4 linked regions of the Homo sapiens genome follow. The protein of the gene in region 1 purifies or fractionates together with the protein of each later gene. This does not show direct contact. Each region holds a gene or a part of one and is shown on either strand. Other genes may lie near its edges.

What was found. The genes of interacting proteins can lie anywhere in the genome.
Region 2: the proteins of MCEE (region 1) and NFU1 purify together in Homo sapiens (co-immunoprecipitation; one large-scale study listed by IntAct). This does not show direct contact.
Region 3: the proteins of MCEE (region 1) and FBXO21 purify together in Homo sapiens (co-immunoprecipitation; one large-scale study listed by IntAct). This does not show direct contact.
Region 4: the proteins of MCEE (region 1) and ZNF732 purify together in Homo sapiens (affinity purification with mass spectrometry; one large-scale study listed by BioGRID and IntAct). This does not show direct contact.

The regions. Positions count from the first base shown.
Region 1 is NC_000002.12:71,109,187-71,113,229, forward strand, and holds the end of MCEE (methylmalonyl-CoA epimerase, mitochondrial precursor), read right to left. Parts: intron 1,673-4,043; coding exon of another isoform or gene 1,652-1,672; exon of another isoform or gene 1,577-1,651; intron 937-1,576; coding exon 784-936; 3' UTR 501-783; downstream 1-500. UniProt on the Homo sapiens protein: Methylmalonyl-CoA epimerase involved in propionyl-CoA metabolism.
Region 2 is NC_000002.12:69,399,436-69,402,935, forward strand, and holds part of NFU1 (NFU1 iron-sulfur cluster scaffold homolog, mitochondrial), read right to left. Parts: intron 1,104-3,500; coding exon 929-1,103; intron 1-928. UniProt on the Homo sapiens protein: Iron-sulfur cluster scaffold protein which can assemble [4Fe-4S] clusters and deliver them to target proteins.
Region 3 is NC_000012.12:117,180,471-117,183,970, forward strand, and holds part of FBXO21 (F-box only protein 21), read right to left. Parts: intron 1-3,500. UniProt on the Homo sapiens protein: Substrate-recognition component of the SCF (SKP1-CUL1-F-box protein)-type E3 ubiquitin ligase complex.
Region 4 is NC_000004.12:288,475-291,974, forward strand, and holds part of ZNF732 (zinc finger protein 732), read right to left. Parts: intron 1-3,500. UniProt on the Homo sapiens protein: May be involved in transcriptional regulation.

The DNA of each region.
Region 1 (4,043 bases):
TCATTCAGATGTTGTTTTGTAAGTGTTTACATTTATTTCAAGCAGTACTCTCCCCAAATGAACCATAAGCATCTTGGCAGTGGATTTCTATTCATTTTGTATATTCCCCTAGGACCTGTTGTGGTGTTCTAGCATCTACGTGATACCTAACTCTACAAATTACTACTGATTTAAAAAAATAATTCAGACATCTACATGCCTACTAGATGACGCACCAGGTTTTCCACAAAACTTCCTATACATCTAGCCCTAGCACCCAAAACACCTGGACCCTGAGGAAACTGTGACCACGAGTTGTTTTTGAAGAGCAAAACTTCTGAGATTAAAATTCCCTAATCTTACACAGCTTGCTCTAAAAAAGTATTCCAAAACATTCTTAGAAACTTTTGCCCCAAATATTAGCCACAAAATTGTCATACTTTCATAACTCCTTTGTGTATCCATCCATCACACACATACCCTTGTACACAGCTAACACATTACATTCAATTACCCCATTGTAGAAGAGGAATAATTTATTTCTATATGATTTTAATAATGTTCCCTAAGTAATTAGTAATCAAGATTTTCTTCAAATTCAAATTAACAAATATGTTTGTTAATCTAAATAATATACATATTTATGTATTTATATATGTATATATTTTAATCTTTCTGTAATTCAGTCTTTAACTGTGAACTTTTACATGATGGAAGCAGTGAAGGACTCAATGTCATAGTACATTTTGATAGTATTTGATAGGCTTTTTCAGGTCAATTAATTTAGTTGCTTGCAAATATAAATCAAGCTTGCTCCAGTTCCACAAGGACTCCACCACAGTCTTTAGGATGGAGAAAAATCACTGGTTTTCCATGTGCTCCTATTTTGACCTCTTCACTTAGACTGCGGATCTTCTTTTTTTTCAAATCCATCACAGCTGCATTAATATTATCCACCTTAAGAAAGGGAAATAAATTGAACACATTTGAGATCATAAAAATACCAACTTATAGTATCATAAGACTTAGAAAAAACTTTGAGAGCTCATGCAGTCTATCTCCTCTGCCTGTGGGCAGGACCATTCTTAAATCATCATAAAAAATAAGCTTAAAATTTTCAGAGAAGTAAGAGAAGTTACTAAATTTTTCTAGGTAAGCAACCACAATGCTCAGAATTTTCACCATTAGTAAATGTTTCTTCTTATAATCTAAATCATGTATGATATACTTTATAATAGTTTATTCTGGCAGTACTATTAGTGAGATTGAAGACATTGCTTTTTCCTGAGAACCCTGGGTCCTCATCTATAACAGGCAAATGAGGTCTACCACATAAATTGACTACAGATTAAAATGAGGTAACAGATAAAAAGCTTTCAGTACAGTTTATGGCATAATAGGTACTTAGCAAATATGAGTGTTTCCCTGATCCCCAAAACTTGCCCTGCCAAAACACCTGGTTATTACCTTTGACATTATCAAGACACACATGAAAATCACTATTAAATTGCCATCAAAATGTTATTCCCCACCCAAAAAAATTTCAAACTTTAATGTTTTTGCAGCCTCTTCTAAGTTATTTCTATTTTCTTCATACTTATGGACACTCTAGGAGGAGCAGATGTGTCTCTCTATACTTGACGGAGAAATGATCTGCCTCTATCTTGGAAAGTCACCCACTTAGACTGGGAACCTAAGAAATGGATGAAAAGGTATGATATGAATGGCCACATTCCTAGGCAGTCATAAATCACTAGTTTAATTAAAATCACTAGTTTAATTAAAAAAAACACACAAAAGCACAGAGACTAGTTTAACACCCATGTACCTACCATTCAGATCTAATAAATATTAGTATTTATACAATTTTATTTCCAAAGAGCCAAGGATTATATGCTGAATTCTAAAACCAGTCAAACAGCTAATGAGGATACTAAATGTTACATAAATAAGCTATGATTTCTTCATATGGCACATATTCTACTTGTATTCCTGATATTTCTTTTTTAAACCTCATAGATATGTCAAAGTCACACGTGCCTAGATTCTGAACACAGCTCATTTCATGACATCTTGCACTGTAGCTGGTTAATTCTCATCTTTTTCAGAATAGAACATGCACTAGAAGCTCGTGGCAGGAACGGCTCGACCCACTTAGTGAGGAAAATTGGTCCTCACTGATGTCAGACATTGTCAATTTTATCTTATTTTTAAATTCATATCAATATTATTAAGCTTTTCTTCTGCTGCGTTAGGTGGGATTGGAGCAGCTTTTAGTCTAGGACTAATTTTCCTCACTACCAAGCCAAAGCCCTTCTGAGTACTCTTCCCAATGTTACGGAAATTACTATGACTAGTAAGAAAAAACTATCCCCACCTCTGTGTGTGGATTATTCCCTCTAATCCTTTCAAGGGGTTCTATTCTAGCTTCCTAACATGCGTGCAATACTCGAAGCTCCGATGAAGACATGAAAGGTACTACAGATCTTTAGAGTTCACTCTCTGTGCAGCTCTCCTTTCCAGGAGAGAGCTGTGAACTCTAGCACCATGGCCTCCTCAGACTTCCAACTCCTATCTCCGCAACTCAGGGAGACCACTAAGTTCCACGTGGATTCCCCCTTCCTGCACTGCAGTCTGGAAACTCTCTACAGCCAGTAAACTGGGTAATTGTAGGGCTCATCTTGTTTGTTTACCCTCTCTCAGAAATCAATTCCTGTGCTGCCTGATGTCCAATGCCAGAAATCCATTATGTCATGTATTTTGTCTAGGTTGCTTGTTTGTTTCAGGGAGGATAAACTGATCTCTTTTACACCAACTTGGCCGGAATCAGATTTCTAAATTGGCAGGTTTTTTCTGTCAGCAACTAAAAAGTGTCATTACATGTCATTCTATAATATGTCTTTTTTACTTTGATTGCTTTTAAGATTTTCTTGTCATCTTTGATTTTCAGTTTGACTATGGTGTGCTTAGGTGTGGTTTTCTTTCTTTTGAGACAGAGTCTCACTCTGTCACCCAGGCTGGAGTGTAGTAGTGCGATCTCAGCTCACTGCAACCCCTGCCTCCAGGGTTCAAGCAATTCTCCTGCCTCAGCCTCCAGAGTAGCTGGGACTACAGGCACACGCCACCATGCCCAGCTAATTTTTATATTTTTAGTAGAGAAGGGGTTTCACCATGTTGGCCAGGATGGTCTCGATCTCTTGACCTTGTGATGTGCCCGCCTCTGACTCCCAAAGTGCTGGGATTACAGGCGTGAGCCACTGCACCTGCCTTTTTTTTTTTTTTTTTTTTGAGACAGAGTCTCACTCTGTCACCTAGGCTGGAGTGCAATGGCATGATCTTGGCTTACTGCAGCCTCTGCCTCCTGGGTTCAAGCGATTCTCCTGCCTCAGCCTCCTGAGTAGCTAGGATTATAGGCATGTGCCACCATGCCTGGCTAATTTTTGTATTTTTAGTAGAGACTGGGTTTCACCATGTTGGCCAGGCTGGTCTCGAACTCCTGAACTCAAGTGATCTGCCCGACTTGGCCTCCCACAATGCTGGGATTACAGGCGTGAGCCACTGTTGCCCGGCCTGGTGTAGTTTTCTGTTTGCCCTACTTGGGGTTGCTGACTTTCTTGAAACCATAGAGTGATGTTTTACATCAGATTGGTAGTGTCCTTGTCAACTATTTTTTCAATTACTGCTTCTGTTCTATTTTCTCTCTCTTCCTTTTCTGGGACTCCAACTATATTCTGCTAGAACTTTTGACCATGTCCTACATCTGTCTTATGCTCTATTCTGTTTTCTTTTTCTTCCATATTTTTTACCTCTTGATTTTGGAATTCTAGTTTCTAGAACTGTGAAAAGAATAATTTCTGTTTTAAGCCACTAAGTTTGTGATCATTTATTATAGCAGCCCTAGAAGACAAATATAACTACCACACATCATACCGAAATTGAACAACGAAGTAGATGGATGGCTGATAGTGGGAGCTAAGTTTCTCACTGTTGGAATGAGAAGATAAAGGCTAGTGTGGTCTATGTGGTAATGGATTAGAGCTGGAGACGTCAGTATGCTCTGAGGA
Region 2 (3,500 bases), 1.7 Mb from region 1:
CTAGAATTCTACTCAGTATAACAACAAACTATGATTTCTTAATGGGCTTCTTGCTTGCATATTTAAGAATACATAGATTAGGCCAGTTGTGTTAATCCTTAATCCCAGCATTTTGGGAGGATCACCTGAGGCCAGGAATTCAAGACCAACTTGGGCAACATAGCAAGACCCCGTCTCTACAAAAAAAAAAAAAAAAAAATTGGTAAATATGATGTAGTAGAGTTCTTCCACTAAAGATTTCTAAATCTCATCTATAAAACACTGTGTTACATTTTAAACCTTTTTCATAATTTTTGTGCAATCAGGGCAGCAATATGCCCTCTGAGTCTCTGTAGCCTTATGTGCAAAATGGGAATGACTTAATGCACTGTGTCATTAGAAGATGAAATGAGCAAAAATGCCTGGCACATAGTAGGTTCTCATAACACTAAAGTTACTTCATTTTTTTTTTTTTTTGACGGAGTTTCGCTTTTGTTGCCCAGGCTGGAGTGCAATGGCGCGATCTCGGCTCACCGCAACCTCCGCCTCCCAGGTTCAAGCAATTCTCCTGCCTCAGCCTCCCAAGTAGCTGGGATTACAGGCGTCTGCCACCATGCCCAGCTAATTTTGTATTTTTAGTAGAGACGGGGTTTTCTCCATGTTGGTCAGGCTGGTCTGGAACTCCCAACCTCAGGTGATCCACCCACCTCAGCCTCCCAAAGTGCTGGGATTATAGGTTTGAGCCACTGCGCCCAGCCCAAAGTTACTTCTAAAATAAGAGACTTCAAGTCTGATAAAAATTGCAACACAAAAATCCAGCCCTTGAAGAAAAAGCTAGGTCATGAACTTCTTTTCAAATACTTGCCTTAACATCTATTTCCAGCCTTTGTATCTACAAAGAAAAAGAAAAAATGAAAAAAATCTAGACTGTCATATAATATTGGCATACCTGTTCTACGCCTTCTACCTCCGGAATATAAAACTGCAGCATGTTCTGAATTCCATTTTTCAGAGTAATGATTGAACTAGGGCAGCTGGTACAAGAACCCTGGAGTTTCAGCTGTACAATGCCATCTTCAAAGCCTTTGTAGATTACATCCCCTCCATCTTCCTGCACAGTTGGCCTGTGAGGTCAAAGAATATTTATGACATATTCTTTAAAATACAAGTTTTCATTGAAAAAATTTAATACAGCTCAGAGCTTAAATTTTATATTAGTAAAATTCACAAAGTTAGAGCTACTTTTATAATACAGAATAATAACTGTGGCTAAGTTTTATTTAGAATTAAATTTTTTTTTTTTACTCTCAGGTAAAATACCAAAATTCACTCATACAAATATTTCCTCCGCTTACCGCATTTGATCTTGCTTGCTAATATCTTTTTAAGGCTGGGCATGGTGGCTCACACCTATATTCCCAGCAATTTGAGAGGCCAAGGTAGGAGGACTGCTTGAGCCCAGGAGTTGGAAGCTGCAGTGAGCTATTATCACACCAGTGCACTCCAGCTTGGGTGACACAGCGAGACCCTGTCTCTAAAGAAATTTTTTTTAAATAAAACAATATTTTACAGCACTTAAGATTTCAAATTTCCTAATAATTATTGTGATTACCTAAAATATACTCAGTCACTTCTTTTGAGTGAAGGAAAAGGGAGACTGTCACATGCTGGCTTCATTTTCAGGTAAACTTTTCATTGAAATACAACATTAATACAGAAAAATGCTTAAATCATGTATGCACAGTTCACTAAGTTTTCACAAAGTGAACACACATTTATAACCACCCAAACCAAGAAACAACACCAAACCTCCAGAAGTCCCCTTTGGGCTTCCTTCCAATCACTCCCCACAACAAAAATGCTGCCATTATCCTAATTCATATCACCACTGATGAGTTTTGCCAGTCTCTGAACTTTATAATTTACAAATATAAATTCTATTTATAAATCACGTAGAATTACTCTTTTGTATCTGGCTTCCTATGCTCTTTGTGAGATTCACCTATGTTGCTGAGTATAGTACTAGGTCATTTACTCTCACTGCTGCATAGTATTCCATTAAGCAAATATACCAGAATTTATTTATCCATTCTACTGTTGATAGACATTTAGGTTAACATTAGGTTTTGGCTTTTACAAATAGTGCAGTTATAAAGATTCTTAGAAATGTCTTTTGGTATGCATATATATTACTACTGGGAATATACCTGAAAGTGAAATTGCTGAATAAAGAGTATGAATATGTTGAGATTTAATAAATACTGCCATATAGTTTTCCAGTTATATAAACTTACATTCCCACCAGCAGTGTATGAGAGTTTCTGTTGCTCCACATCCTCACCAACAATTGGTGTTGTCAGTCTTAATAGTTTTAACTATTCTACTGGATTTGTACAAATATTTAATTATGGTTTGAATATTCACAATAACTAATGAGGTTAAGCATTTTTTCATGTTTAGTGGCTACTTGATTATCTTTTTTCCTTTTTTTTTTTTGGAGACAGAGTCTCACTCTGTTGCCCAGGCTGGAGTGCAATGGCACGATCTCAGCTCACTGCAACTTCCGCCTCCCGGGTACAGGTGATTCTCCTGCCTCAGACTCCCAGATAGCTGGGATCACAGGCATGCACCAATACCCCCAGCTAATTTTTTGTATTTTTAGTAGAGACCATGTTTCACCATGTTGGCCAAGCTGATCTTGAACTCCTGACCTCAGGTGATCCGCTCACCTCAGCCTCCCAAAGTGCCGGGATTATGGGTGTCAGCCACTGCGCCCAGCCACTATTTGATCATCTTTTGCGAAGTACCTGCTCCAGTGTCTGATTGTCTTTTTCTTACCAATTTGTACAAGTTATTTATGTATTGTCATATAAACACTGTAAATATCTTCTAATCTGTACCCTGCCTTTTGACTGTAAATGGCACTTTTCAACAGTCTCGCTTTGTCACATAGGCTGGAATACAGTGGCATGATCACAGCTCACTCACTGCTACCTAAAACTCCTAAGCTCAAGGGAGCCTCCCCTGCCTCAGCCTTTTAAGTAGCTGGAATTACAGGCACAAGCCACTGTGCCCAGCCAATGGCATCTTCTGATGAAGAGACAGTCACAATTTTACTGTAGTCCAATTTATATGTATTTTCCTTGATTTTTATCTGATATATATATACATATATTTATTTTTTAAGACGGAGTTTCGCTCTTGTTGCCCAGGCTGGAGTGCAATGGCTCGATCTCGGCTCACTGTAACCTCCGCCTCCCGGGTTCAAGGGATTCTCCTGCCTCAGCCTCCCGAGTAGCTGGGATTACAGGTGCCCGCCACCATGCGTGGCTAATTTTTTATTTTTTTAGTAGACACAAGGTTTCTCCATGTTGGTCAGGGTGGTCTCGAACTCCCAACCTCAGATGATCCATTCACCTCGGCCTCTCAAAGTGCTGGGATTACAGGTGTAAGCCACCGCGCCCGGTCTTTATCTGATTTCTTGTGTCCCGTTGGGGAAAAAAAAAAAAATTGCCTACCCG
Region 3 (3,500 bases), on another chromosome or scaffold:
ATATCTATGTCTTCTTTATTCCAGGAGAATTCTGCTTCTCCAGGATATCACAGGTGGTAAAATTAGAATATCACATCGTTATTCATTTACTTCATTCCACATCTCTCTCTCATACACACACACCAGCCCTCAGAATAACAAGACTAATGTTTTCATCACTTTTTTTTTTCTTTTGAGACGGAGTCTCGCTCTGTCGCCAGGCTGGAGTGCAGTGGTGCGATCTCAGCTCACTGCAATCTCCGCCTCCCGGGTTCAACCTAGTCTCCTGCCTCAGCCTCCCAAATAGCTGGGATTACAGGCTGCATCACCACACCAAGCTAATTTTTTTTTTTTTATGTATTTTTAGTAGAGACGAGGTTTCACCATGTTGGCCAGGATGGTCTCAGTCTCCTGACCTTGTGATCCGCCTACCTCAGCCTCCCAAAGTGCTGGGATTACTCATCACTTTTATGATTACTGAAAACAGCTAAATATTTTGCATATGTTCTCCCCCACTGTCCATTCATTTTTTAAAACAGATGCATTGTATTTATACTGACATGTCTTACAGACGTTACACATGAAATATTTTCTCCCCTAGAGCCCTCATTTGAATTTAAATCTAAAAATAAATACATGTTTAGTGCTCACTGCCAGTCCTTATATCAGTGTTTCTCTGTTTTGTTTTTTTTGGGGCGGGGAGTGGTTTTTGGTCATTTGAAATTCATTTTCCAGGAGATCTCTCAGGAAGGACTGAAAAGTCACTGAATTCTTGTTAAGTTGTTAAGTTTCTGTGCAGTCTTTGTATCTGGAAGTCAGTTTGGCTGGATATAAAAATCCTTGGTTGACATTTCCTTAGATCATTGAGTATCTTAAGCTATTTTTTCCTTTGGCACAAAAAATTCTGTTGAAAAGTCTGATGATATTCTTATTTTCTTTTCCTTATAAATGACTTTACCTTTTTTGCTTGGATGCTCAAAGGACTTTCCTGTCTTTAAAATCCAGCAATTTTACTAAAGTATGTCTCAGTATTGGTCATTCTGTGACACTTTTCTCAGGTACAATGTATGAATTTATCTATCTATCTATTTATATCTATCTATCTATCTGAGACAGTCTATCGATCGATCGATCTATCTATCTGAGACAGTCTATCTATCTATCTATCTATCTATCTATCTATCTATCTATCTATCTAATCTAGCTATCTATCTATCTGAGACAGAGTCTCACTTTGCCACCCAGGCTGGAGTGCAGCGGCATAATGTCAGCTCACTGCAACCTCCACTTCCCAGGTTCAAGCGATTCTCTTGTTTCAGCCTCTTGAGTAGCTGGGATTACAGGTGCCTGCCACCATGCCCGGCTAATTTTTTGTATTTTCAGTAGAGACGGCGTTTCTCCATGTTGGCCAGGCTGGTCTCGAACTCCTGACCTCAGGTGATCTGCCCACCTCAGCCTCCCAAAGTCATGGGATTACAGGTGTGAGCCACTGTGCCTGGCCCAGTGTATGCCCTTTTAATATGCTGTTTCTAATCTTTATTGTAGGACATACTCGTTTTTAAGACCACATAGCACATCATAAACACAAACTGATTTCAAGCTGATACTTTGGCATTTATGGAAACTACACTTTTTCCTTCCCATGCTTTCCATATCCAAACCATAAGCATTTGCCAGGAATGAAAACAAACAGGGTCTTCCATGAAAACTGGTATCCCAAAATATTTTTAAATGCGGGGTATTCTATCATTTAAAAACAACCTTATTTGTTTGTTGGCTCACACTTATAGTCCTAGTACTTTGGAAGGCCAAGGTGGGAGGATCACTTGAAGTCAAGAGTTCAAGACCAGCCTGGGAAACATAGTGAGACACTGTCTCTACCAAATAAAAATTAGCCAGGCATGATGGTACATGCCTGTATTCCTAGCTACTCAGGAGGCTGAGGCCAGAGGATCCCCTGAACACAGGATTCAAGGTTACAGTGAGCCATGATTGCACCACTGTACTCCAGCCTGGGCAACAGGATGAAACCCTGTCTCAAAAAAACAAACAGGGCTGGGCGTGGTGGCTCACACCTGTAATCCCAGCACATTGGGAGGCCACAGCAAGAGGATCTTTTTTTTTTTTTTTTTTTTTTTGGACCGAGTCTGTCGCCCAGGCTGGAGTGCAGTGGTGCAATCTCAGCTTACTGCAACCTCAGCCTCCCAGGTTCAAGCAATTCTCCTGTCTCAGCCTCCCGAGTAGCCGGGATTACAGGCGTGTGCCACCATGCCCAGCTAATTTTTGTATTTTTAGTAGAGGCAGGGTTTTACCATGTTGGACAGGCTGGTCTTGAACTCCTGACCTCAAGTGATCAACCCGCCTCGGCCTCTCAAAATGCTGTGATTACAGGCGTGAGCCACCATGCCTGGCTGGGAAGATCTCTTGAGGCCAGGAGTTTAGTAACTGCCTGGGCAACAAAGCAAGACTCCATCTATACAAAAAATAGAAAAAATTAGCCAGGTGTGGTGGCAAGTGCCTGTAGTCCTAACTACTCGGGAGGCTGAGGCAGGAGGGTCACTTGAGCCCAGGGGTTTGAGTCTGCAGTGAGCTATGATTGCGTCACAGCATTCCACCCTGGGTGACAAGAGTGAGACTCTGTTTCTAAAACAAACAATCCTTTTTTAAGGTCAAAATATGTGTGTTGGGTAACCTATTCGTATTTATTTCTAAAAACACTATAATATATGTCTTTACTAGCTATGCATTTTCATCTTTTTTGGGAACCTGATATGTAAAATGGCAGTATCTCATTGCTGTTTAACACTTTTTTTTTTTTGAGACGGAGTTTCACTCTTGTCACCCAGGCTGGAATGCAATGGCGCGATCTCGGCTCACTGCAACCTCTGCCTCCCACGCCTCCCAGGTTCAAGCAATTATCCTGCCTCAGCCTCCCCAGTAGCTGGGATTACAGGCACCTGCCACCATGTCTGGCTAATTTTTGTATTTTTTGTAGAGACAGGGTTTCATCATGTTGGCCAGGCTGGTGTCGAACTCCTGACCTCAGATGATCCAAGGACTTGGCCTCCCAAAGTGCTGGGATTACAGGCGTGAGCCACTGCACCCGGCCTATTTAACACTTTTTGAATAGTGTATTAAAAGTTTTCCGTGATTGTTAGATGTTAGGATTTGTTCTTCTGTGAATGTCATCCTCCTAACCTTTGAACATTTTTCAATATCTCTTGAGTTCTACTGACTTCGTTCATGCTCTCTTGGCCATATAGAAGTGTCTGCTCTTTCACTGTCTCCGCATTGTCCTTCTTGGTTAAGGTGGTCTCCCTTAGACTATACAAAGTCTCCTATTTTCTTGAGGAATGTTCACTGTGATCATTTAAAAATTTCAGTTGTTTCATCCTTTGGAAAAATGTTTGCATATGATGCACGTTTTCCTTTCTTCCAGCTGGATATTCAGTTATGTCCAGTACCATTTCTTTAAAAATCCATTTTTTCCCTCTGAGTTTAAATATATTAAATTATCTTTT
Region 4 (3,500 bases), on another chromosome or scaffold:
CCAACACCATTTATTAAAGAGACTGTCTTTTTCTTATTGTATGGTTATAGCAACCTTGTTGAAGATCATTTGAGCATATACATGATGGTTAGTTTTTGAGTTCTCTGTTCTGTTCTATCATCTATTTGTTTTCCTGCAAATACCTCACTGTTTTTATTTATGTAGCTTTGTATTCTGTTCTAAAAACAAGAAGTGTTGTGCCTCTAGCTTTGTTCTTATTTTCTAAGATTGGGCCATGATGGTCCTTGAAATTCTATGTAAATGTAAGAATTTTTAAAAATATTTTTCCAAAAAGTAGGCTGGGCGCAGTGGCTCATGTCTGTAATCCCAGCACTTTGGGAGGCGGAAGTGGGCTGATCATGAGGTCAGGAGATTGAGACCATCCTGGCTAACACAGTGATGTAACAGGGTTTTGAAACCCAAAACATCCATGTTATTGCAACAATATTCACTGTATTAGTTTATCCTCGTATTGCTATAAATACCTGACACTGGATATCTTATTTTTAAATAGAGATTTAATTCGCTCATGGATCTGCAGGCTGTACAGAAGGCATAGCAGCTTCTGTTTCTCAGGAGGCCCCAAAAAGCTTCCAATCATGGCAGGAAGCCAAGCAAGAGTGAGTCATCTCACATGGTAGAAGCAGGAGCAAGTGTGTGGAAGAAGCTGCTTTTAGAAAATGAGATCTCTTTAGTTATTAAAAGAAAACTGCAGAACTCCTCATTGGTTTTCCTTTACCTAATGATTTCTGTGAAGTGAGACTTGGGTAGTAGGAAGAAGGAATTAGACACTCTACCTGCCACCCTGCATGTGTGTGCGCTCGCGCACATGCTGTCTACATGTAATCCACTCCTTTTACTTTCCTTTGAAACTGGTAAGGTTAAAATAGGGGAGAAATCCTACATGTTGCAATGATAGCTTTTTGGAAAATTTAAGAAATCAAACTCTCCAGGCTCTCCATCTTGATTTATGCTTGAATTGTTATGTGCCATATTTGCTTTGAACTCTGATTACCAGAAGTTTTACTAAAATGTTGAAGAAATAATTCACTTTCACCTGCTTTCTAGATTTTGTACATCTCAGTTCATAAAGCAAGCTTATTGTTAGCATAGTTTTCTAAATGCTGCAGATTTGCAGCCATTACCACTACAAAGAATTTTGAATGAGGGATTTTTTTTCTTTGTTAAAATAGTTCGTGTTTCTGTAGAAATTTCACTTTTAGATTGAACTGCAATGGATAAGCTATCAAAAATAAAAAGAAAGAAAATGAGATCTCAGGAGAAGTCACTCACTATGGCAAAGACAGTACCAAAGGGGATGGTACTAAACGATTCATGAGAAGCCAACCCTACGATCCCATCACCTCCCACCAGGCCCACCTCCATGAGGGCTTGTAATTTGATGTGAGATTTGACTGCAGACACAGATCCAAGCCATATTATTTACAAAAGCCAAAACATGAAAAAACTCAAACATCCTTCAACAGTTGAATAATTTAAAAGGATGTGGCTTACACATACAATGAAAAATTATTTAGACTCAAAATGAAAATATCTTGTCAGATGCTACAATATGGATAAATCTTAAAGCCATTATTTTAAGTGAAATAAAACACTAACGAAGTGACAGTGTAAGATTCCACTTATATAAGGTATTTTACTTAGTAAACTCCTACAAAACATAAGTAGAAAATTGCTTGCCTATAGTTAGGGTTGTGAAACCTCAGTGGAGTCAAAGATCAAGGGGGGTTACTTGGAAAAAGCAGGCCCTCACCAGGTGGCCAACTCAAGAGCCCATAGACATAGCTACAGACAAGGAAATTATGCACAGAGTTTGGTCTTACTGAGGATTCCAAAAATAGTTCTGTAACCTCTCTCAAATTCAATCTCAGCTATAGTCCAGAAGTGGTCCTTCCCATCAAGAGACCTGCAGGAAGACACAGCCAGCAATGGCCCTGGAGGCAGGCCTGCAGATCCTGGCCTCAGCTGTGGTCCCTGAAGCAGCCCTGCAGATCCTGGCCTCAGCTGTGGTCCCTGAAGCAGCCCTGTGACTCAGTTCTAGCCATATGTAGTCACAGTCTGTGGCCATTCGTACACATTCAGAGGCTCACAGAGAGACCTGTAAAAACTGTTCCCAGGTAGTCAGCAGAAGCCAAACCCATTCATACACCTGTTATTTGGGCCATCATATACAGACAAACTTCAAAACCCTAGCCTACAACCTGCCATATAGATTAATGTCCTCAAGGAAATCTAATCTTTTCAGGGCCCAGAAGAATCCATAACTGTCCAAATCTCTGGCAACACAACCATCAAAGACACAATGCACAGCAGACCCAGCAGCACCCTTGTGACCCAGCTACAACCCTTCTCTGCAAACCCAGAGGTAGTCTCATCAGCCTGGGGACCCAACAAAAGGAGATGTTTACCTGCCAAAAAATAGATTATACAAACTGTAAATCATTGTTAAATCCTTAAAATATACAGACACAGGGCTGCTTCAGGGACCACAGCTGAGGCCCAGATCTACAAGCATGCTTCCAGGACCACAGCTTCTATCTTAACATATTACCAAATGTACCAGAACAATTAGGCAAGGAAAAGGAGAACAAAGCTCTCCTGCTTGCAAAAGTAGTAAAAATGTTACTGTTTGTAGATAATATGATCATGCATATATATGAAACCCTAGAGTGGAATAACAAAAACTGAACTAATAAAGGCACTCATTAAGGTATCAGGATACGTAATCAACATACAAATATCTGTAGGTAGTTTCTTGGTTTGTGTTTATAAGGCAAGGTCTCACTACAAGGCCCAGGCCCATCTCGAACTCCTGTGCTCAAGTGATCCACATGCCTTGGCCTCTGAAAGTGCTGAATTACAAAAAGGAACCAATATACCTAGCCCAACATACAAATATGTTTCATTTCCATAAAGTAACAAAATTTCCAAAAAAAGAAAAAAATTCAATTTGCAATACTATAAAAATAAGAAATTAATTCAAAATAAATTTAACCAATGAAATAAAAAATTTACACACTAAATACAAGATACAAAATCTAGTGTATAACAATAAATTTAGACACTAAATGATGACAGAAACTGAAGCAGACACAAATAGATAAAACCAGATTCCATCAGGATAACAGATATTGTCAAAGTATATTTTCGAAAGTGATTTGTAGATTCAAATGTGATCCCTATCAAAATTTTAGTGGCGTTTTTCACAGTAATAGTAAACACAATTGTAAAATTTAAGTGTAACCTTAAACAATTTTAAATAACGTAAGCCATCTTGAGAAAGAACAAAGCGAGGGGCATCATACCTTCTAATTTTAAACTTTATTTAAAGGTTATAGTAAGCAAAAGAGTATGGTATGTGCATAAATACAGATATAAAAAAACCAATGGAACAGAATAGCCCAGAAACAAATCCATGCATACAAGGTCAACTAATTTTGGCAAGGGAACCAAGAACACACAATGCAGAAATTACACTC